Homo sapiens: one gene and its partners. The protein of the gene in region 1 interacts with the protein of each later gene in a biochemical or structural test. Each region holds a gene or a part of one and is shown on either strand. Other genes may lie near its edges.

Region 1 (8,320 bases):
GTGGTGTGGGCCCGAGTATGGGAAAACATGAAGTGGATAGAGTAGATGGTGATTCATGCTGGAGCTGTAATTCTGGGCCTGACCTTTGACTGTCTTTAAAAATCTTTATTGCTAGATGCCAGTGGAAGCTGAAGCTATTACAGAACTATTAAGGGTGTGGCAATTATGCACCCAAAGTCAGAACATCTGTTTTTAACTGGGAAACCTGTTGCTTCCTTGCTGTTGATTTCCTAGATGTGTGTGTGTATGTGTTTTCTGCTTAAGTAATCAGAAAGGACTAAGGAAGATAAACGGAGGCTGGAGAGTGCCTAGAATTGTTACTGCTTGGAAGTAGGTGGTTGGTTGGCCCCAGAATCAGGATTCTGGGTGTTTTTAGGTCAAGATGAAGGCTACAAAGCAAAGGGTTTTTTTGTTTTCGCCCCTGCGATCTAGGTGGAGAAGGAAGTTATATATGTGAATGTCATGCCCATCGTGTTTTGGTTTATCAATTTGTGGAATTCTAGGTGGTGTCTTGCAGTGAGATATTCTCCTCAGAAGGGAGACCTTTGAGTACTTTCACTGTAAGGTTCCAGGGGAGGGACTTGTAGAGAATTAGTAATGCCTGGAAGGAATGAGTTCGCATGATGCAGTTTGTTTACGATGGGTGGGTAAGTCTATTTGAGAAGACGGCCTGAAACTCACAGGGGCAAGGCTTATGAGGTGGTCTCATGGTGTGAGTGTCCCAAAGAAGAGAAGTAGGATGGTTCTTTTAGTCCACCTGCCTTTTGTTGATTCATGCATTCAACAGACACTTGTTGAGCCTACACTGTGTCCTGTTATCCAGGGTATTAAAGAATCAAAGGTGAATACGGGCATGGTTTCTGCCCTGAGGGAGCTCAGGAGATACGTGGAAGAGGTAGGCAGGCAAAAAATAATTATATACATGAGATAAGTGCTTAAGAGGGATGGCTAATGCACAGAGCAAAACCCAGCTGTCATTGGATTGAGGGAGGTAACAAAAGCTTCCCAGAGGAGAAAATCTGAGCACCTTTCTCTGCCTTCATTTTCAAGCCCTTATTTCAAATATCTCTTGTATTGATTAGGTCTCTTTTGGTTGTAAGAAAACCCAGTTCATAGCAAAGACGGGAATTGATTGGCTCATAAGTGACCAAAAGAGCCTCTAATAAGTAGTGTGGCTGCAGATTTGGCTTCTTCTGGGGGTTCCACTCTTTTTTTTTTTTTTTGAGACGGAGTCTGGCTCTGTCACCCAGGTTGGAGTGTAGTGGCGCGGCTCACTGCAGCCTCCACCTCCTAGGTTCAAGCAATTCTCCCGTCTCAGCCTCCCAAGTAGCTGGGACTACAGGCCTGTACCACCATGCCCGACTGATTTTTGTATTTTCAGTAGAGATGTGGTTTTGCCATGTTGGCCAGGCTGGTCTCAAACTCCTGCCCTCAGATGATCTGCCCACCTTGGCCTCCCAAAGTGCTGGGATTACAGGCATGAGCCACTGCGCCTGGCCTCGGTTCCACTCTTTAGGTAGGCACTGTGTCCACTGGGAGACTTCCACATCTTCCAAGTCTCAGAGGGAAAGAATACTCATCTCGCAGTCACTGTGGCCCGAGTCCCAGGATTGGCTCTGAATGCTTCTGGGTCACATGCCTTTCCCCAGAAATGGACTGGAGTCAGCGCACCCAAACCATATGGACTGAGAGTGGATGGTAATGGGTGGTAATCAGGCAAGAAATAAAGGTCATGGTGTGTCTTTTGTAGCCCTGCTAAAAAGAGAGATGTTTTGTTTCTTGAAAACCCTTAGATGCAGATCATCACCAATGGTGTTTTTGGGGAGATGATGTCTTGAGTAGAGGAAGGAGTACACTGGGATGAAGACCTTGAAGTTACAGAAGTATCAAGGAGAAAAAAAATTTGAGAGACAACTAGGAGAGCATAGTACTGAGGCTCTGATAGGGAGTGTCTCCTTGGGTGTTGATTTCTTCCCTGACTGAAGTTTCCCTTGGAGGTCTGAATGCTTTCACAGATAGTTGTTTTTTGAGAACCCAAGGTTGTAAACCCAAATGCCTAGAGGGCGAGGCCAGTAAAATGAATCAGTGCTTTGGGCCATGTGAAGGCCTCAGGGGACCTGGAGGACTGTGTCCCACCAAAGGGGCTGCTGTGGTAATGTAGGCCCAGTGTGGACCACCTGTGGAGTTTTCCTGAAATCTGCATTTTAACTAGCTGGCGTTTAATCCAAATTAAACTACGGGGACACTATATGCAGCTGAACAAAATATTTCTGTGGATCACCCAACTGCTTGTCTAGAAGGACTCAGAAATTGACAGTCCCTCTTTTTCATTTATTCCCCTGTACCTTACCCTGATGTTTTCAGTTCTTTGGATTTGTTGAAAAACAGCTCATCCTTTCTTTACTAAAATCTTGAAAAGGTCTGATAGTAACAGTCTATAACATTTCTATGGTGGTTTAGTTTACAAAGTGCTGTACTAAACCACCTGGCTTGGATTTCGTCTCCTGACAATGATAACTTCTCTCTGACAAAGATGGAAACCTGGCTGGGTGGGGTGGGGTGGCTCACGCCTGTAATCCTGACACTTTGAGAGCCCGAGGTAGGAGGATCACTTGAACCCAGGAATTTCAGACCAGCCTGAGCAACATGGTGAAACCCGGTCTTTACAAAAAATACAGAAAACTAGCCAGGAGTGGTGGTGTTTGCCTGTCTCAGCTGCTTGGGAGGCTGAGGTGGGAGGATCAACTGAGCCTGGAAAGTCGAGGCTGCAGTGAGCTGAGATCATGCCACTGCACTCCAGTCTGGGTGACAGAGCAAGACCCTGTCTCAAAAAAAAAAAGAAAAAAAAGAGGAAGAAACCTGACTTTCTAAGTTTGCACAGTTACTGAGTAGTGGCTGAGGCATGGCTTGGGTCCAGGGCCTCTTCCTGTGGTTCCCAAGTGCTTTTGAGTACAGGAACTGGGCTGCCTCTTCACCAGGGAAGGATTAGTGTTTATTAATGTTTATTAAACATCTTCTGTGCTTATGAAGCTGCTGGGCTTGGTGCTTTGCATACTTTTATTTCATTGCATTCTCATAGCCACCCTCTGAGGTGATGTTACTTATTTCTGATTTAATGATGAGGAAGCCAGAGATCAAAGAGGTCATCAAGCTCGCAAGAGACAGAGCCGTGGACCCAAACCCAGGTTTCTGATTCTGCAGCAGCTATAAATTCTGATCACAGAGATCTAATGACCTCTAGGAGTCTTCCACTCCTAGGAGGTATGTAGAATGGACCACTCACTAGGTAGTTGGATCCACTACCAGCAATGTGAATTCTCACACTGAGTCAAAATGTGTCTCTACCTACTGATCCCAGAACAGTCCCCTGCTGCCGAATTGAATGAATCTCATCTCTCTTCCCTGAGTCAGCCCTGCCTGTATTTGATGATCACAAACCTTATCCTTACGTTGCCAGCAGTAACATTCTGCATCCCTCACCCACTCCACTGTGTCCTTTTCCTCCCACTGATCTTCACTCTACCTTTCCTTCCCCCCACCCTTTTTTTTTTTTTTTTGACGGAGTCTCGCTCTGCCGCCCAGACTGGAGTGCAGTGGTACAATCTCGACTCACTGCAACCTCCACCTCCTGGGTTCAAGCGATTCTCCTTCCTCAGCCTCCCGAGTAGCTGGGCTTACAGGCATGAGCCACCAAGCCTGGCTAATTTTTGTATTTTTTAGTAGAGATGGAGTTTTGCCATGTTGGCCAGGCTGGTCTTGAACCCCTGACCTCAGGTGATCCACCCACCTTGGCCTCCCAAAGTGCTGGGGTTACAGGCGTGAGCCACCACGCCTGCCCACTCTGCCTTTTCTAGGGGAACTCTGAACAGTATTTCTGAGAAGGGATAGGTAATGTGTGCTTTGCTTCAATCTGAGTGGATTCCATCAACCTCTCCATAGAGCAGGGTGGAAAGAGGTCCTCTTGTCGTTGCAGCAGCTTCTCAATCTCATCTTTTATGGCCTTATTATGTAGTTTACATGTTAAGAAATCCAGAAGTATTTATAGTTGAGTGAAAATCCATTCTTTACTGGGGGGAAGAAATGAACTCTAAAACCATAAAAATGATGAACCAGTAGAAAATTTTCATCTGTAAATTTGAACCATAAAAGGATATGTTCATTTAGCATCATTTTTATATGTGTAAGCGGCATGTTACGCTATTATGGAATTGCCTTTGTAGCAGAGTGGACGAGGCAAAACCTTCCAAGTTTGATTATGGCCTAGGGCGCTGCAGTCAGTACGTGCACCGTGCATTTTTGTCAGACCACAGGATGTTTCACCTTTATCATTCTATTTCAGTTTCTCAAGTGTAGGTAGATGCTGTAGTAACTAGTGAAGTACAAATCCATGTAAAAATGTTAAACTCTCATCTGTTCGCTGTGTTTGTATTTTCTTAAAGGTAGGGATTAAAAGTGTAATAGGCCCACAGTCCCTTATCTGGAATCATTGGGCCAGATAAGTTTTAGAATTCAGAATTTTTCAGATTTTTCTAAAAGTAATAATATGCATATATTGTTGTTATGTAATACTTCCAGTGGGGTCTGGGACAAAATCCCATAATCAAACATTAGTATAGCAAAATATATATACATATATTCCCACTGAATGGATATGCATGAAGATTATGCATAGTTTAATATCAGTTCAGGTCAACTTTTATTGCCAAATAAGTTACAAAAAAAGATTTGTTTTTTAGAACTTTTTGGATTACAAAATGGTGATAGGGATTGTGGACTTGTCTTACTTTTAGTTATATACCTATTGAGAGTCTGTTAAATTTTTTTACTGTAAATAATATTTCCCATATTCCCAAAGGTTGGAAACCACAATCACATAAGCAGGGGTCACAAACCGAAGTGCCAGGTTGGGTAAAATAAATAAGTGAAATGGGAGGCGGGTATAGGACAGTAGGGAATGTGGGGACTGCAGTGAACTGGTGAATACATGTTCATTCAAAGGGGAGAGCTGCTCTTCAGTTCTAGCCACTTGTTGCCATGGTGAACGTGGGAGTAGTGAAGCTACATCTTCCATTTTTGATGATACTCCAGAATGCTGATTTTCATGTGAAGTTTCTTGATATTTAAATGTTGGCAACTAAAAAGAAAAAAACCCACTGTTGGCCAAAGAAAACATCTGAAAGCATTATCTGGCTGTGGGCTGCCTGCTTTCATTTGTAGTTTAGAGACTAATGCTTGTGGTATGAAAAGTTGTCAGTGAGCCGGGTGCAGTGGCCCATGCTTGTAATCTCAGCATTTTGGGAGGCTGAGGTGGGAGGATCACTTGAGACCAGGAGTTTGAGACCAGCCTGAGCAACATAGCAAGATCCTGTCTCTACACACGCAAAAAGTTTAGCCAGGCATGGTAGCATGTGCATGTAGTCCCCAGCTACTTGGGAGGCTCAGGTGGGAGGATCGCTTGAGCCTGGGAGGTCGAGGCTGCAGTGAACTGTGATCCTGCCACCGTGCTCCAGCCTGGGTGATGGAGTGAGACCCTGTCTCTAAATAAGTAATTTGTCAGTGGCATTCGTAATGAACTACTTTCTTGAGATATGGATGGGTGCATTTGCTTTATTGTTATTCATTATGCTTTACATACACACTATATGTTCTTTGCACATAAAATATTTCATAATAAAAATCTAAAGAAGTTGATAAGCACTTTATTTTAGCATTGCCTTATTTTCTAGCCATTAGGAAATTTTCATCTGTAAATTTGAAACTTTAAACTTATTTATCTTGGAAAAGGGACTGAAAGCCCCACTTCAAAAATAGGAGCCCTCTTTTTAAAAAGTAGGAGTTAAAAGAGGTTAGATTGTAATGTTCATTCCTTTCCAGGGCCATAGTGATCTGAAGTAACATTGGGTATTCACTGTTATATTGCGACAGAGAAATGTCCTCGATCTCCTTTCTTCTCAGACCGTTCCCCTGGGTGATCTCAGCCCCATAACTATCACCTCATGGTGACAGTTTTATGCCTCCAGCCCTGGGGTCTCTTTATCCCTAGAATGATGCTATCATCTCTCTCTTGAAAAATCTCTGCTGACATGGCCTGATAAAATTGAACCCATGAACTTCTTCCTCAAATTGGCTTCATTTCCCTCTATCTTCTAGTCTGTGAGTCACGAGACTTTGGCCTGCAGGGTAAATCCAGCCCACCGCTTGCTTTGTGAAAAAGTTTACTGGAACACAGCCACTCACTACAGTGGCAGGGTTGAATAGTTGCAACAGTGACCCATATGGCCTGCAACGCCTATGGTATTTATCCTCTGGCACTTCATAAGAAGCATGTGACCCCTGCCCTAGGGCATTAAATGCCCTCACACCCTCCCTAGTCACCTGTCAGTCCCATTCTTTTTCCTCCATCATCTCAGTCAGGTGAGGAGACTGGAAATTCTGCCTCTTTGATTATCTTTTTCTTTTTTTTTTTTTTTTTGAGACGGAGTCCCTCTCTGTCACTCAGTCTGGAGTGCAGTGGCATGATCTCGGCTCACTGCAACCTCTGTCTCCCGGGTTCAAGCGATTCTCCTGTCTCAGCCTCCTGAGTAGCTGGGACTACAGGCGCACACCACCATGTCCGGCTAATTTTTTTTTTTTTTTAATTTTTAGTAGAGACAGAGTTTCACCATGTTGGCCAGGCTGGTCTGGAACTGACCTTGATTATCTGTTGACTTCATCTTTGCTTCCCAGAGGCCATCCTTCCTGTTACCTTAATTAGGTGCTCATTATTTTTCACTTGGAGTCAAATTTGTCTTCCAGTTGGCTTTGCTGCCTTGAGCTGGCTTGAGCTGGATTGTATCTACAATTCCCCAACCTTCTGTTTGACATGGTCGGTCACCATTTTAATGATTATAGCTGCTCACCTCTAAATTACTTTTTCATGATGAATTCTCTAGAGGTTAGAATCACTAGATTTATAGGAAATTAATGTTTATATCATGACAGTATTGCCAGGTTGTCTCCTAAGATGATAATGCCGTCATTTAGTTTGTAGTGCAGAAAGTGATGTTGCGCAATAATGTGTGTCATTATGCATGACATGATGAATATCACATTTCACCATCACCTTAGTTGCATTAGATATTGTCCTTAAAAAATTTGTTATCTATTTAAATTTTTTCCACTAAGTTCAAAATGAATGTGTTCTTACATTTGTATTTCTTTATATGAGTTTTCTCTGTATGTGTCATTTGTTTGTCATGGAATTAACGTTTAGTTATCAGTTTCATTGCTCAGTTACCAATTTAGTTCAACAAATGTCTCTTGAGAACCTGTCAAATGATAGGGGCTGGGGTTAAAAATATAATTGATCCCTGGGGACTTGAATGTGGAGACAGAGCTACAAACAGATAATCTGAATGTAACCAGTTTTATCTATTCTAGCAGATCTTAGGTGCTGTTAATGAAATCTTAATGCCATTCTTTGATGTATTTATGTACTTTAATATAAACAAGTTAGCATTCTTGTTCATAGATATGTTCCTCAACAGATACAGTGATGAAACCTTGCACATTCATGACTAGGTACAGATTTAATACAAGTTTCAGAAGATAAAGCTGATTCTATAAAAAATCTAAGATTTCTATAAGAAACTGTCTTTTAAATAGGTAGAGCCTATTATTTATAGCAAATAAAATAATAGGCATGTTTGATATAAAAACAATATTCAGGCTGGGTATGGTGGCTCACGCCTGTAATCCCAGCACTTTGGGAGGCCAAGGCGGGTGGATCTCCTGAGGTCACGAGTTTGAGACCAGCCTGACCAATATGGTAAAACCCCATCTCTACTAAAAATACGAAAATTAGCTGGGCATGGCAGGCAGGCGCCTGTAATCCCAGGTACTCAGGAGGCTGAGGCAGGAGAATGGCTTGGACCCAGGAGGCCGAGGTTGCAGTGAGCCAAGATCGCACCACTGCACTCCAGCCTGGGCAACAGAGTGAGACTCCATCTCAAAAACAAACAATATTCAGTTCATTTCAGCCATGCATCTTGTGAGACTGTGTTTCCTCTGTGTTAATTACAGCTTATTGATTATTTGCATTGGCTACTTCCTTTTGATTATCCCAAGATGTTTCTCTCTTCCTCTCCTTTCCCACAGCTCTTCTTTTTGGACGTCTTCCTTATCAGAGATACCTTTTGGTTTAGTAGTCAATTTGATCTCTCCTTTAATGTTTCATTAGCATTTCTTCTGTAGTTACTCAGTGTTCTTCCACATGGTTTGGCCAAATTTATACTTCTTAAAGAGTTTAAATTAGAAATCACAGACCAAGTAAACAGGTGCT
Region 2 (7,000 bases), on another chromosome or scaffold:
TGAATGGCCTGGTGCCTAGTTCAGCACACAGCACACCACACGCAATACATATTCATTTAACATTCAAAAGGATGAATGCTTGAGAGTAAAACTACAAACCAGCAGCCACTAAGACGATTTGTCCGCTAATCAGAGGATCCTGAGTAAGAATTTGAGCTTAAATCTAACCCCTTCCTGGCTGTGCAACCTCAAGCAAGTCATTTCAGCCCTAAGAACCTCAGCTTCCTCCTCTAGGAAATGGGAATAATTATCATTAATAAATACCATCCCCACAGGCTTGTGGCAAGGCTCAAAGCAGAAATGGATATGGAAGTAGAGGGGGTACTGCCAGTGTCCTTCTATCAGGTGGGGTACCCATCTCTCAGCAGCTGTGGGTGCTGGCTGCTAGCAGCTCACAGCTGCCCCCTTCCCCTGAGAGCTGCCCTTGGCTTACAGGAGCTGCCTCATCTGGAGATGCAGGGGGAGGCTAGGCCCTTCCCCGGGAGCAGCTTGCAGACAATGACCACCAGCTAAGGGGCTACAAAGGCCTGGCCCCTTGTCTGGAGGAAGGTAACCCTGGGAGACTGGCTGTTCATAATCTAGAGCTCTCCGTGGGATCCTAGCTGTAAGCAAATCTTTTCCCGCTCTAATATGAGCATGCCTGCAATAAATCATTTGCCCGGGAATCCTTGTCTCAGCTCTGCTTCTAGAAGACCAGACTTGAGACAGGAAGTATTTTGTAAACAATGACACACTAGGCACAAATATGTGTTTTTTTAATTTTTTTTTTAATTTTAGGAAACATTGAAAGTAGAGGAGCTAGCAATGTGAGAGGAGGAGGCGGTCAGCTCTGTGGGCAGGGGTGAGGGGTAGGGGAAGCCCAGTCATGCTGCTCTGCCCCCACCCAAACCCTGCCTTCATGGAATGCTTGGGCAGGTAAGGGGGACAGACAAGAAACCAACAAGAGCATAATGTCAGGGATAAGTGCTATGAAGATGATAAAGTAGAATCAGGAGATGGGGGACAACGAGGGCTGTTTTTGATAAGGTGGTCTGGGAGGCCTCTCTGAGGGGGTGATGTGGGTGGAGATGTGAACATCATGAGCCATGTAGGCCTTTGGGGAAGAGAATTCCAGGCATAGGGAATAGGAGTGCAAAGGCCCTGGGGCAGGGTGTTTGATGGGTCCAAGAAATGACCTGGGGATCAGTGAGGCTAGGATGTATGAGAGAAGGTCTGAGGTATTGGGCAGCCGGATCACATGGGGTCTTGCAGGCAATTATAGGGCTTTTTTTTTTTTTTTTTTTTTCTGAGACAGAGTCTTGCTCTGTCACCCAGGCTGGATGCAGTGGTATGATCTCAGCTCACTGCAACCTCTGCCTCCCAGGTTTGAGGGATTCTCCTGCCTCAGGCTCCTGAGTAGCTGGGACTACAGGTGTGTGCCATCACACCTGGCTAATTTTTGTAATTTTAGTACAGATGGGGTTTCACCATGTTGGCCAGGCTGGTCTGAAACCCCTGACCTCAGGTGATCCACCTGCCTCGGCCTCCCAAAGTGCTGGGATTACAGGTGTGAGCCACTGCATCTAGCCTGTTATAGGATTCTGGGCTTTATTCTGAATGGGAGGGGAGTCATTGAAGAGCTTTAGCAGAGGAAGGATGTGATCTGATTTAAGTTTTAAAGGACCTTTGGCTGGTGAGGCAAGGACGGGGCAGGAAGACCAGGTAGAGGCTGCTGCAAAGATCTAGGAGAGGATAGTGGAGGCTCAGAAGGGAAGGCAGCAATGGAGGTGACAAGAAGTGGGTGGATTCTGGGTGTTTTGAATGTAGAATTGAAGGACTTGTTGATGACTAAATGAGGTGTCAGGGACAGACAAATGCAACTCCCAATTTACAGAGAGGACAGAAGAACATACTAAATAACACCACAGGGATGCAATCAACAAAATCCAGTCTGCAGGAAACACAGCAGGACAAACCACCTGCTTCCTCCCATAGATAAACTGCAAAAGAATAAGAAAAGATGGAGAGGAGAACTGTGGATTGAAAGAGACTAAGACATATCAACCAATCATAACGTGTGAACTTTACCTGGAACTTGATTTAAACAATTTAAAAAACAAAAAGACATGTCTGAGACAACAGGGAATGTGAATACTAAGTGAATATTTGACTATATAAAGGAATTAATACTTCTTAGGTATAATAATGGTATTGTGATTGTGTTAGAAAAAGTCCTTATCTTTTAGAGAAATATCTTGATTGAGATGAGATTGGACATGTGTTGGTATCTGTTGATGCTAAGCCATGAGTATATGACTGTTATATAACATTTTCTCTACTTCTGTAAATGCTTATAATATTTCACAATAAAAAGTTTGCAAATAAAAGACAGAAGAGGAAACAGAATCCAAGGGAGGGGGTTGAGTGGCCCTAGGCCCCTCAGTGAGTCAGTGTCAGGGCCAGGACCTCAGCCTGGACCCCCAACCCCCAGCCCTCCAGCCCTGCCTCGGCTGCCCCTCTTGTCCTCAGTGGCTGGTCAAGGCTAGACCCCGGGAACCCAGTGATGAAATGTGTGACCTCAGGGAAGGCCCAGATTAGGCAGAGTGGGGCTAAGGGATGCAGGGTCTTTGCCAGGCCCTGCAAGGAGAAGCAGCCCTGGGCCACCTGTCCCACAAGGTCCAATGAGGCTGATCATTTAAAGTGCCCTGCAGCAGCAATCCAAGCTGGCTGCCCCACCAGCCTCACGACCCATGTCCTCTCTCGTGTTCCTATGCTGATTTCCTCCCCAGCCCCTGAGACCACCACTCACATTCCAGCCTTTGCATCTTTGTCCCTGCTGTCACTCTGCCTGGAATGTACCCCCCCGCCCCCCGCCCCGTCTCTGGATCTGACCAGCCTTTCCTTCCAGGTCTGCCTTCTGCAGAAGACAACCCTCCTTCAGTCTTCCAGAACACACCTGCCTCCAGTCTCTGAGACAAGAGATTATCCCCATTCCTCGACGACAGGTGCTGAGGCAGAGAGGCTCACAAGCACAGCTTCTGGAGCCAGACTGCATGGCTGTGAATCTGGCTCAGCCACTTACTGTGTGACCTCAGGCAAGTCACTTAACTTCAGTTGCCCCATCTGTAAAATGGGGATAACCCCATGAGCTTACTAAGAGGACTAAATGAGTTATAAATATGGATAAACAAAAGAGCGCCTGGCACATGTCAGGGATCCCCGGCCCCTCCTTTGTGCCCCTACAAGACTCCCCAGTGCTACACAACCACCACTTTGCCAGATACCCCACTTCTGCCATACTCCTTCTACAGCCCTCCTGATACCCAGATGTTACCTTACCTTACCCCCTTTCCCATCCCGCCAGGTTTCAGGCACCACAGGCCTGGGAGGAGGGAGAGGGAATATAAGCCCATGAGGGGACCAGTTAGGAACCAACCACAGATAAAAACTCTCCAAACACACGTGGCAGCATGTGACTCACATGCCATCAGATTAAGGGGAATGGAGTTTACGTGCTCATTTTTTTAGGTTTCTAAGAAAAAAATTCCCAGTATCATCAAGTGCAGTTTTAATTGTTTTCTTCATGAGTAATGATATTTGTTTATAAAATGCAAACAGCACAGAATGGCTGAAATAAAGAGGACGCATTCTCCCTCCAGATCCCTGCGATAGGCCTCAGCCCAGAGGCAAGCTCTAATCACAATCAGGTATGCAGCCTTCTACACATTGTTATGTAAATATGAACAGAGAAGAACATATGTACATGTACTTTAAAAATTGTATCATACTACACACATTGTTCTTTTTTTTTTTTTTTTTTTTTTTGAGACAGAGTCTGGCTCTGTCTCCCAGGCTGGAGTGCAGTGGCCCGATCTCGGCTCACTTCAACCTCCGCCTCCTGGGCTCAAGCGATTCTCCTGCCTCAGCCTCCTGAGTAGCTGGGACTACAGGCGTCCTTCACCACACCCAGGTAATTTTTGTATTTTTAGTAGAGACAGGGGTTTCACCATATTGGCCAGGTTGGTCTCGAACTCCTGACCTTGACTACACACATTGTTCTACAAAGCCACTTGCTTTAACTTATCAGTACGTGATGACCATCTTTCCACACTGGTAATAAGCTCCGCCCCATCTTGTCTCAGTGTCCCCAAGCACCTAAAGTGGTGCCTGGCAGGCAGCGACATTCAGAGATCCATTGATTAAATCCCAGAACGAACAACTGCCCGAAATCACAGCGTACAAAGAGGTCTTGACTTTGTCACTGGTCCTCCTGACAGACATCTAGCTTTGCTACACTGACTGTCTCTGCCCAGCTAATCTTTGCACCCTGCTCAGAGTGTACCTGTGGAATAAGTCCCAAAAAGTGGAATTGCCAAGTCAAAACTGTGACCACTGTTGCCAAAAACACAGTGCTAACGTATGCTCCCCGACTGACGTGAGAGTTCTAGTTTCCCACGCCCTCCGCCAAATGAGAGCTTTCTTAGGAGGACTTTTATTTCTCAAATGGATTACCCCTATTTAGTGATTCCACCCTTGATCACCACATCTCCCTTTGTCCCACCTGCATAAATGAGAAAACTATTGTTTTATTATTTCTCAGCAGCACTAAGGAGCCAAAATCCACAAATAAGGGACTACTCTCTAGCCAGTATAGAAAGTTAACAGATGGGAAATTTGGAACATCTCACCTGTTTCTAAAAATGGATGTGTTAATGTTTTAAAACTGTCAACTTCAAACAAGTATCTATTGATTCTTCCCCCACACTCAAGAACAGAAAATTCTCACCCTCTCTCTCCACTCCTCCCTACCCCAGCCTACAGTGGCCACATTTAGTCAATAAAAATTCAGGGCCAGGCGCGGTGGCTCATGCCTGTAATCCCAGCACTTTGGGAGGCTGAGGCGGGCAGATCACTTGAGGTCAGGAGTTTGAGACCAGCCTGGCCAACATGGCGAAACCCCATCTCTACTAAAAATACAGAAAAATTAGCTGGGTGTGGTGGCCGGCACCTGTAATCTCAGCTACTCAGGAGGCTGAGGCAGGAGAATCACTTGAACCTGGGAGGCGGAGGTTGCAGTGAGCCTAGATCGCAGCCTTGCACTCAAGCCTGGGCGACAAGAGCAAAACTCCATCTCAAAAATAAATAAATAAAATAAAATAAAAATTCAGGACACCTAGTTAAATCTGAATTTCAGATAAATGACAAATACAGTTTTTTATTAAAAATATGTCCTATGCAATGTTTGGGACATACTTAGACTAAAAAACAACAAAAACACATTTGTTGTTTTTCTGAAATTTAAAATTACCTGAGTATGCTGCATTTTATATAGAAAGACTACCCTAGCCCCTACCCAGCATTTTAATATCAAGTTATTTTTAGCCTGGGCAACACAGTAAGACCCCATCTCTACAATAAAATTGAAAAATTAGCCAGGCATGGTAGCACTCAGCTACTCAGGAGGCTGAATGGGAGGATCCCTTGGGCCCGGGAGGTCGAGGCTGCAGTGAGCTATGATGGTGTCACTCACTCCAGCCTGGGTGACAGAGCAAGACCCTGCCTCTAAAAAGAAAATAATTATAACAATATCGAGTGATTTTAAAATAATAGCCAAGGTAGGCCAGGTGCGGTGGCTCACACCTGTAATCCCAGCACTTTGGGAGGCCGAGGCGGGTGGATCACGAGGTCAGGAGTTCAAGACCAGCCTGGCCAAGATAGTGAAACCCTGTCTTTACTAAAAATACAAAAATTAGCCGGGCGTGGTGGTGGGCGCCTGTAATCCCAGCTACTCAGGAGGCTGAGGCAGAGAATTGCTTGAACCCGGAGGTGGAGGTTGCAATGAGCCAAGATCGCGCCACTGCACTCCAGCCTGGGTAACAGAGTGAGACTCCGTCTCAAAAATAATAATAATAATAATAATAGCCAAGGCCTCCCCTGCCCTCCCAGTTTTCAGGTATCCTGCAGCCCCTCACACCCAAGGTTGAGGTCTTCAGAGACAGCACCCAGGGGAGGGTGGAGGGGAGCCCCCGACCCCAGTCTCCAGCCCAGCCCTCCCCTCCAGGCCACCCTGCCCCTGGCTGGAAACCAGCCACAAAGTGTCCCCAGCAGGTGGGTCTGAAGTGGCTAATAGGTTTTCTTCATTTGGCTTTCCAGTACATTCTAAATTGCTCCCCACAGACACGCTCCTTTTCTGGAAACGGCACCAGCAACTTCCCTGGCATTAGAGGTCCTGTCTCCCCAGAGCCAGCTGAGGCCAGGCTCCGGTTGATCTTGTCCCTTCAGCCCACCTCTGGGTTCCTCCCAACCCATCTTTCCTGGTGGTGAACACTACCTGTTGCCCCAGGGGGTGGGTGCTGTCAGCAGGCGACCTCAGTGGGCAGATGCTTCAGGGACTGCTGCTACCACAGAGCCACCTGCAGGAAGGCACACCCAAACCCTGTGCCTGATGGGCGCAGGATGCTGGGGTCTAGGGCCTGACTCTCACAGGCAAATGGACATGACCTGAAAGGCCACTCTAGCCCCAGGGCACCCTGTTGCCTGTTGGGCTGCATCAGAGTCCACTTCCCCTTCATCCAATCCCACTTCCTTCCCTGCTTTCCACAGTGAAGCTCCGGGACCCCTCCTCTACCTGCCTGCCAATCCTCACGGCTACTTCCTGGGACCCTGACCTGCCCGCCAAGTCCCCAGCCCAGACCTCCCCTCCGGTCCATCCTGCCCCTGGCTGGAAATCAGTTACGAAGTGCCCATGGTGGGTGGGTCTGATGTGGCTAATGGGCTTCCTTCATTCGGCTTTCTAGTACATTCTAAATTGCCCACAGCAAACCTATATTACTTTGGTAATAAGAAAAAATAATAAAAGCTATTTTTCTTTAAGAAAAATGTAAAACCAAACCAAGCAGCATCCTTCTTATCTGGTATACCCACTCGTCCCCCAACCCCTCCACCTGGTTCCCCAGGGAGGGCCCCCCAAATCAGTGAATGCCCCCACCCCTCATGTCCTCTCCTGTCCCTTCTGTCCTTC
Region 3 (7,000 bases), on another chromosome or scaffold:
ATATTTATCCACAACAAAGAGATGTACAGTGCTTTCGTATACAGTGATTTACAGTTTTCCATGTGCTTTTACATGTATTATTACTTCATTTGATCCTTACAACAACCCCAGAGGTAGATGTGGCATGAATTACCATTATTCTCCTTTGAGAAGAAGAAACTGAGCATCAAAGAAGCTTGTTGGCCTTCTTGCCAGAAATCACCCAGTTTGTAAATGGTAAAAGAGGGCTTGAAACCAGGTTCTCTGACTCTGACTTCAAGCACTCTCATACATCATCTATTTAATTTTTTGGAGCTAGGTATTTTATACTTAGGATTCTAAATATTGCATAACCATTGAATGCCACACCACCCTTGTATTCAGTGCAAAAAATGGGACTTTTCTTAATAAATAGAGAAATGGAGGTGCCTAAAATTACAAAATTGCACTAGAGAGATAGTGATAGAACTGGGAAACTCTTAGTCTAATATTTTATCTTTTATTCATATGATGGAATACTAAGCTCAATTGTATTACTAATATTGAAACAAAATACAAACTTTCCTTTGTTTCTTTGTTATTTGTCTTTCTTTCCTCCCTCATCCCCTTCCTTCTTTCCTTGCTTCCTTCCTTCCTGTCTCCCTCCTCCCCTCCCTCTCTCTTTCTTTTCTCCCCTTCTATCCATTTTTTTCTTCTTTTCTCTCTACGTTTCTCCTTTCTCTTTCTTTCTCGTTTCTCTCTTCCTTCTTTCCTTTTCCTCCCGTCTATCTCCTCTTCCTTCCTTTCCTTCTTTCTTTGGAAACATTTATTTTCCAAATAATTCTCACCGTTTTTGAGCTGGTGAATCCACCGCTTCCTTAGTTCTTCAGTTGGGGAGAAGACGTAGAGAGGCCCTTCATCATATACAACCTGGGTCGATGAAAACACAGACTTCAGCAGTTAGGATTCAGAAAAAAGGAGAAAGACCTTGAAAGTACTAATCTTAGGGGACAATTTGTATATTTATTGTAGAAAACAAAGAAAGGCAGAATCTTCAGTCAGCAATGGTGTTCAGGTTATGTGAACTATCTGAAGGATTCCTGAACTCTTCATATCTAGGAATGTAGCGTTTAAAAGCTCTTAGAATTTTTCATACTCTTAGGTCCTCCTGACTTGTGCTTCAATTCATGCATAAACTTATTTTATAAGGTCTCCGTCTGCCCTTGCTGGAGATAACATTTTTGTTTATCCAACAAAGGGTATTTTATCTTATTATTAAATTCTGACTTTGTATAGAAGAGAAATGAAGTGATAATCTATATAAATTAAGTCTTGATTAGTACATATGGGTTATTCACTTGGATAATATGGAGTAAAATTTTAATTCATGGCTAATTACCTCCACCTCCACTACCTAGTGGCCTCCCCTCACCAATATTAGCCAAAATAAATCAAATTTGGAACTACAAACCTACTTCAAAAAGGGTAAGGTATATAATAAGCAATATCATCAAGTCAAATAGTATTTTTTTAACCATGTACAAGGCATCATGCTAGGTGTTACGAAGATGCATGAAATATATAAGATGTGGTTCCAACCCTCACAGAGTTTATAGACATCACATAATAAATTCTGAAGTCAAATATAAATTAATTTAAAATTATCTGCTGTTCAGCATTGTTCACTAGTGCAGCCAAACAATGTCATCTTGTTGAAAGGCATTGGTAGTAAAAACTGTGTCTGAAATACCCCTCTTTCAAAGGTTTCGTAAATTTGATATAGTCAGGGACACGAACAAGATCCTTTTACATTTTTCTTTTTGCTTGTTAGTCTTGCTGTGCTCATAAATCCATGACAGAAAGCCCCCTCCCCTGAGACTTTCCACTTCCTTTTCTGGCTTTCACTGTTGCAGAGGCTGCTATATTCACGACATGTGGCCTACAGAGTTCTCAGGATGTAAGCAAGCCAAACTGAAGACCAAATTTGTAGTTCTTGCTCTCCTAAACAGATGCATATGTGGCACTTCAGCTCTTCCAGATTACAACAGAATTTAGGTTTATGCATAAGTCTAATAAGTCTTCCTCATACTGAACTTCCTAATACTACTCCCCTTTTCTATCTTTTCAACCCACATGACCACTATTAGACAGATAGTCAGAACCAGAAGGAAGTGAAATGCTCACTCAACAAGCAGAGCATCTTTCTCAATGCAGTTATCATAGACAAGACACACTATGATAGAATTGGTGCTGCTATGTATTCTTTTTGAGGTATAGAGACTAAAAGAAACTATGTTAGATTAGGTAAATAGAAAAGCAAACATTCTTAGCCCATGCCAGTCTCATTTCTTGGTTCAGCATCCTTGTCCACCTCAACTTCTATTCACTGGGTCCTCGTAGCCTTCCCTCTGCCCTGCACCCCACCACCCCTTCTAATTGTGTTACAGGGGCCTTTCGAGATTTGGTGAGAGAAAATAACTCACCTGGAAGGGATAAGGGAACCTTTCAATGATTGAAATTTGCTCCATTTCACTGGACTCTTCACCTCTTCTCTGTAATGAAATAAGAAAAAATGGTTATTGGTTGATGCATTGCTCTTTTCTGAATTTCCTTAGGTACTAGAAGCCTTTTGCTGTGGCTTCAGAAGTTTCTCCTGCACAGACAAGGCTGATTCTTAGTGATTACTTTCTATAGGCCAATAGGGACACATATCCAATACGACCCAACACATACCCAGTCAAGAGAGACTCAGGTATTTCAAATCACTGGGAAAATGGAGGTTTCTAAAAAATTGTTGTTGGGACAAATATTTAACCACTAACGTTGTGGGGAGGAGAGGAGTTAGGTAGCTATGCTACACCATACACCAAAGAAAATTCCAGATGGATTCAAGAGCTTAATATAAAAAATAAAACTATGAATGACTGAGAGTAAATATAAGCAATTATTTATATAATCCTGTGGGAGGCAAGCTTTTTCTAATATAAGGATGAAACTTAGAACTATTAAGAAAAACCTGAACTAATTTGATGACATAGACTTTAAATCCCTATATGGCAAAAAGCATCATAAACAAAATTGAAAGATAAAGGATAAACTGAAAAACATTTTCAACATACTTTACAGTTAAAGGATAAATGTTCTTATATCAAGATCTCTTTAAAAGTATTAGAAATGAGGTAAACATCTCAATGTAAAAAATGGACCAAAAATTAATGGGCAATTCACAAATAAAATATAAATGAGCAGTAGACCAACTTTATGAGTAAAAGAAATTGCAAAATAAGTTAGCAATAAAATGCTATTTTTTTTTTTTGAGACGGAGTCTTGCTCTGTCGTCCAGCCTGGATGTGCAGTGGTGCGATCTCGGCTCACTGCAACCTCCGCCTCCTGGGTTCAAGGGAGTCTCCTGCCTCAGCCTCCCGAGTAGCTGGGATTACAGGCTCGCGCCACCATGCCCAGCTAATTTTTGTATTTTTAGTAGAGACGGGGTTTCACCATGTTGGTCAGGCTGGTCTCGAACTCCTGCTCATGATCCGCCTGCCTTGGCCTCCCAAAGTGCTGGGATTACAGGCGTGAGCCACCACGCCCCACCTGAAATGCTATTTTTCTTGGCTGTCAAATTAACTAATATTTAAAATATCTAGTGTTGGGCTGGGCACAGTGGCTCACGCCTGTAATCCCAGCACTTTGGGAGGCCGAGGTGGGAGGATCACTTGAGGTCAGGAGTTTGAGATCAGCCTGACCAATCTGGTGAAACCCCATCTCTACTAAAAATACAAAAATTAGCAGGGTGTGGTGGTGGGCGCCTGTAGTCCCAGCTACTCAGGAGGCTGGGGCAGGAGAATCACTTGAACCGGAGGCAGAGGTTACAGTGAGCGGAGATCGCACCACTGCACTCCAGCCTGGGCGACACAGCGAGACTCCATCTCAGAAAATAATAATAATAATAAAAATAACAAAATATCTAGTGTTGGAAAAAATGTACAGAAACAGGCACTCTCATACATAGCTTGTAGGTGTGTATGAAATTCAATTCCACTTCTAGAAAATGAAATAAAAAGATAAAAATAACCAAAGTGCACAGATTTTCTTAAAGAGAAGAACAAAATTTTACTTCTAGGAAATTATCATAAGGAAAAGAATAAAAAAAGTACAGAAAGATGTATGCAAGATTGTTCCTCTCAACATGGTTTATACTATCAAGTACTTGTAGACAAACCGAATGTGTAATAATGGGAGATTAAACAAATTACAATACATCCATAATAGGGAATACCATACAGTCATTAAAATCATGTTATTAAAGAATATCTATTGTCATGGGGAAAAGTTTCCCACATATCGTTACATTGAAAAAGTACGTTACAAAGCAAGATGTGTACTATGAGTCTATGTTTTAAATATATGACATATATATAAGTGTATGCGTATGTGTTCTCAGTGAAGAAAAACATCTGTAAGTCTATGTACACCAATATGTTGATAGTTGTTTTAACTGGGTAACAGGATTATGCATCATTTTAATCTTTTTGTATTTTTTATATATTCCAGAGTTTCTGTAATAAATACGCAATTCTCCTGTGATCAAGAAAATACTGAAAATGGTCAGACCCAGTGGGTGGCTCACGCCTGTAATCTTTGCACTTTGGGAGGCCGAGACAGGCGGATCACTTGAGGCCAGGAGTTCAAGACCAGCCTGGCCAACATGGTGAAACCCCGTCTCTACTAAAAAAATACGAAAAATTAGCCAGGCATGGTGGTGCACACCTGTAATCCCAGCTACTTGGGAGGCTGAGGCATGAGAATTGCTTGAACCCGGGAGGTGAAGGTTGCAGTGAGCCAAGATGGCACCAGTGCATTCCAGCCTGGGCAACAGAGCGAGACTCTGTCTAAAAAAAGAAAAAAAAAAGAAAAAAAGAAAATACTGAAATTGATATATATTTTTTAAAAGTGAACTCAAAAATCAGTAGGTTTTATGTCTCTCGCTCCGGAAAGTGAGAAGAGAATAAATAGTAAGGTATTAAAGGATATCATGTGACTCAGAGCCCTAGGATTATGACATTCAGACTTACTTAAGCCTCTAAATCTGATCCTGAGAGAACTGAGGGAATAAAATCAATGATCTCTGACCAGTTTGAAAACTAGATATAGCATCATTTAAAAGTTTGTGTTAACAAATTTTCCATGTTTAGTGAGATGTTCTGAATATGAAGGAAAGAAGCTAAGATTCTTTATAACCAATATGGTAGAGTGAAGAATTTTTAAAGGAAACTTGACCGTGTTCCACGTTGCACAGCATCACCAGTCTATTTACAGAGAATTTAAATGTTGCAAATTTCTTCAAATCTGCTGTTCCCCATCTCAGACATTGGTCTCTTCTTACCGGAATCTGTCTTTCTGGAGGAGGATTTTTTTCAGGAACCACTGTTTCAACACAAGTGATCTTCTCAACATCTATTGAACCCTTCTTACTGCCTCTTCTCTGAGAAGTAGAATGAGGAAGAAAATGGAGAAAGATTAAGAGGGATTAAGCAACCAGATGATTAGATTTTGTTATCTAATCATTCAACAAAGTGAGGTGGCACCAGGACCTGTCATGTGGGGGAAGAAAAAAAAATCCTTCCAGATCTATAAATCTATGACTACCAAATGGAGGGCAAATACCATGGAAGAGTGAATGACTGTATGTACCTTCCTCATAGGAAGTAAGGAAGCAATTTCCAACTCTTCGATTTCATTTTCAACAATCATTTAATGAGTGCTCATCAATTCCAAGATTCCATGGTAATATTTTCCTTGTGGCTTCTTAGGACCTTTGACTTTCCGGCTTTAGCTAGTTATAGGCTAGGAAATATTTTGCTGAATTTGAAAGAACTTAGGTCCATTCTACTCCCCTCCTCCTACCAACGAAAATTTACCTCTTCCCCAAGAAAGATCTAAGGCCAAGTCCTTGATATCTTGAAACTCAGTTTTCATAGTCGAGAAACTTACCCCACGTTCAAAGTCATACTCATAGTAGGAGAGTTTGTGCACGGTCAAGAGAAACAGGCGCTTCTTGAAGTTTAGAGGTGATGTTTTCTTTTTCTGTTGGGATCGCTTCAGAAAGATGCTCTCCAGAATCACTGCGGCCATAGCTTCTTCTTTCTGGAGTTCACCTGTGTGCTGTTGATAATGAAAGTTCCTGAGGACCCAGGACATTAATCCTCATCCCTCTTGGTTCCCCCTCAGCCTAGCTACCTAGTTTCAAATGGAACAAAAATGTGCACAGCTCACAAAATAATTTCTTCCTACCAACCTCCTCCCACAGCCCCCAGCTCTGTCAGGTTTCAGGTATAATGGATGCACACTGAATTGGGGGGGGATTGGTTCGATGTTGTGAGCTCATATAAACTGAGTTCTTGTATAAGGCAATGGAATGCTCTAGATGTTAAATGGCACGCACCTGTGTGCTTGGTAAGGTGTAGAGGTAGCTTTACACTATTCACCTTTATATGATATGTGTAGAATCTGTGAAAAGCAAAAGTATCTGTGCAGCTGTTGATCTTGATATACCCAGAAGGGATAATGCAGGTGCCAGAACTCCACTGAGGCAGATATTGGACTTTCAGTTCCCAATTTCCTAGACGGTGAATATAATTTTTCAAACATTGTCCCACTGGGGTCTGTAACCAAGGGAACTAATAAGGATATGGAGGCTGCACCTGCAGTTCTGGACACACACTAACTGCTGCCCAACTGATTTTGCCCACACCCACTGACTGAGCTACAAAGGATAGAAGATTTGTTCTAAAGTTGAAAACATAATTTTTTTTGGTGGGTTTTGGTGGGGGGGGGGTAGTTGTTGTTTTCTGACCTTTTCCCCATTTAGCTTAAATTAGTTCTTTTAGACAGCATCATGCAAAAGTGATGCAACTGTCTTACTGATATAGATGCCACCTCTGTTCATTTATGAAACACAACTTATTTAGCCTCCCCAAACCTACAATACTCCAGAAGGATTCAATTTAGGTAACTGAAACACAGAAAGACAAATAAAGTT

The links.
Region 2: the proteins of ARHGAP17 (region 1) and PACSIN1 form a complex in vitro, tested with the Homo sapiens proteins (one study listed by BioGRID).
Region 3: the proteins of ARHGAP17 (region 1) and BTK form a complex in vitro, tested with the Homo sapiens proteins (one study listed by BioGRID).

Annotation. Positions count from the first base shown.
Region 1 is NC_000016.10:25,004,602-25,012,921, reverse strand, and holds part of ARHGAP17 (rho GTPase-activating protein 17), read left to right. Parts: intron 1-8,320. UniProt on the Homo sapiens protein: Rho GTPase-activating protein involved in the maintenance of tight junction by regulating the activity of CDC42, thereby playing a central role in apical polarity of epithelial cells.
Region 2 is NC_000006.12:34,469,076-34,476,075, reverse strand, and holds part of PACSIN1 (protein kinase C and casein kinase substrate in neurons protein 1), read right to left. Parts: intron 1-7,000. UniProt on the Homo sapiens protein: Plays a role in the reorganization of the microtubule cytoskeleton via its interaction with MAPT; this decreases microtubule stability and inhibits MAPT-induced microtubule polymerization.
Region 3 is NC_000023.11:101,369,192-101,376,191, forward strand, and holds part of BTK (tyrosine-protein kinase BTK), read right to left. Parts: intron 6,124-7,000; coding exon of another isoform or gene 6,094-6,123; coding exon 5,953-6,093; intron 5,444-5,952; coding exon 5,345-5,443; intron 2,511-5,344; coding exon 2,442-2,510; intron 889-2,441; coding exon 807-888; intron 1-806. UniProt on the Homo sapiens protein: Non-receptor tyrosine kinase indispensable for B lymphocyte development, differentiation and signaling. Binding of antigen to the B-cell antigen receptor (BCR) triggers signaling that ultimately leads to B-cell activation.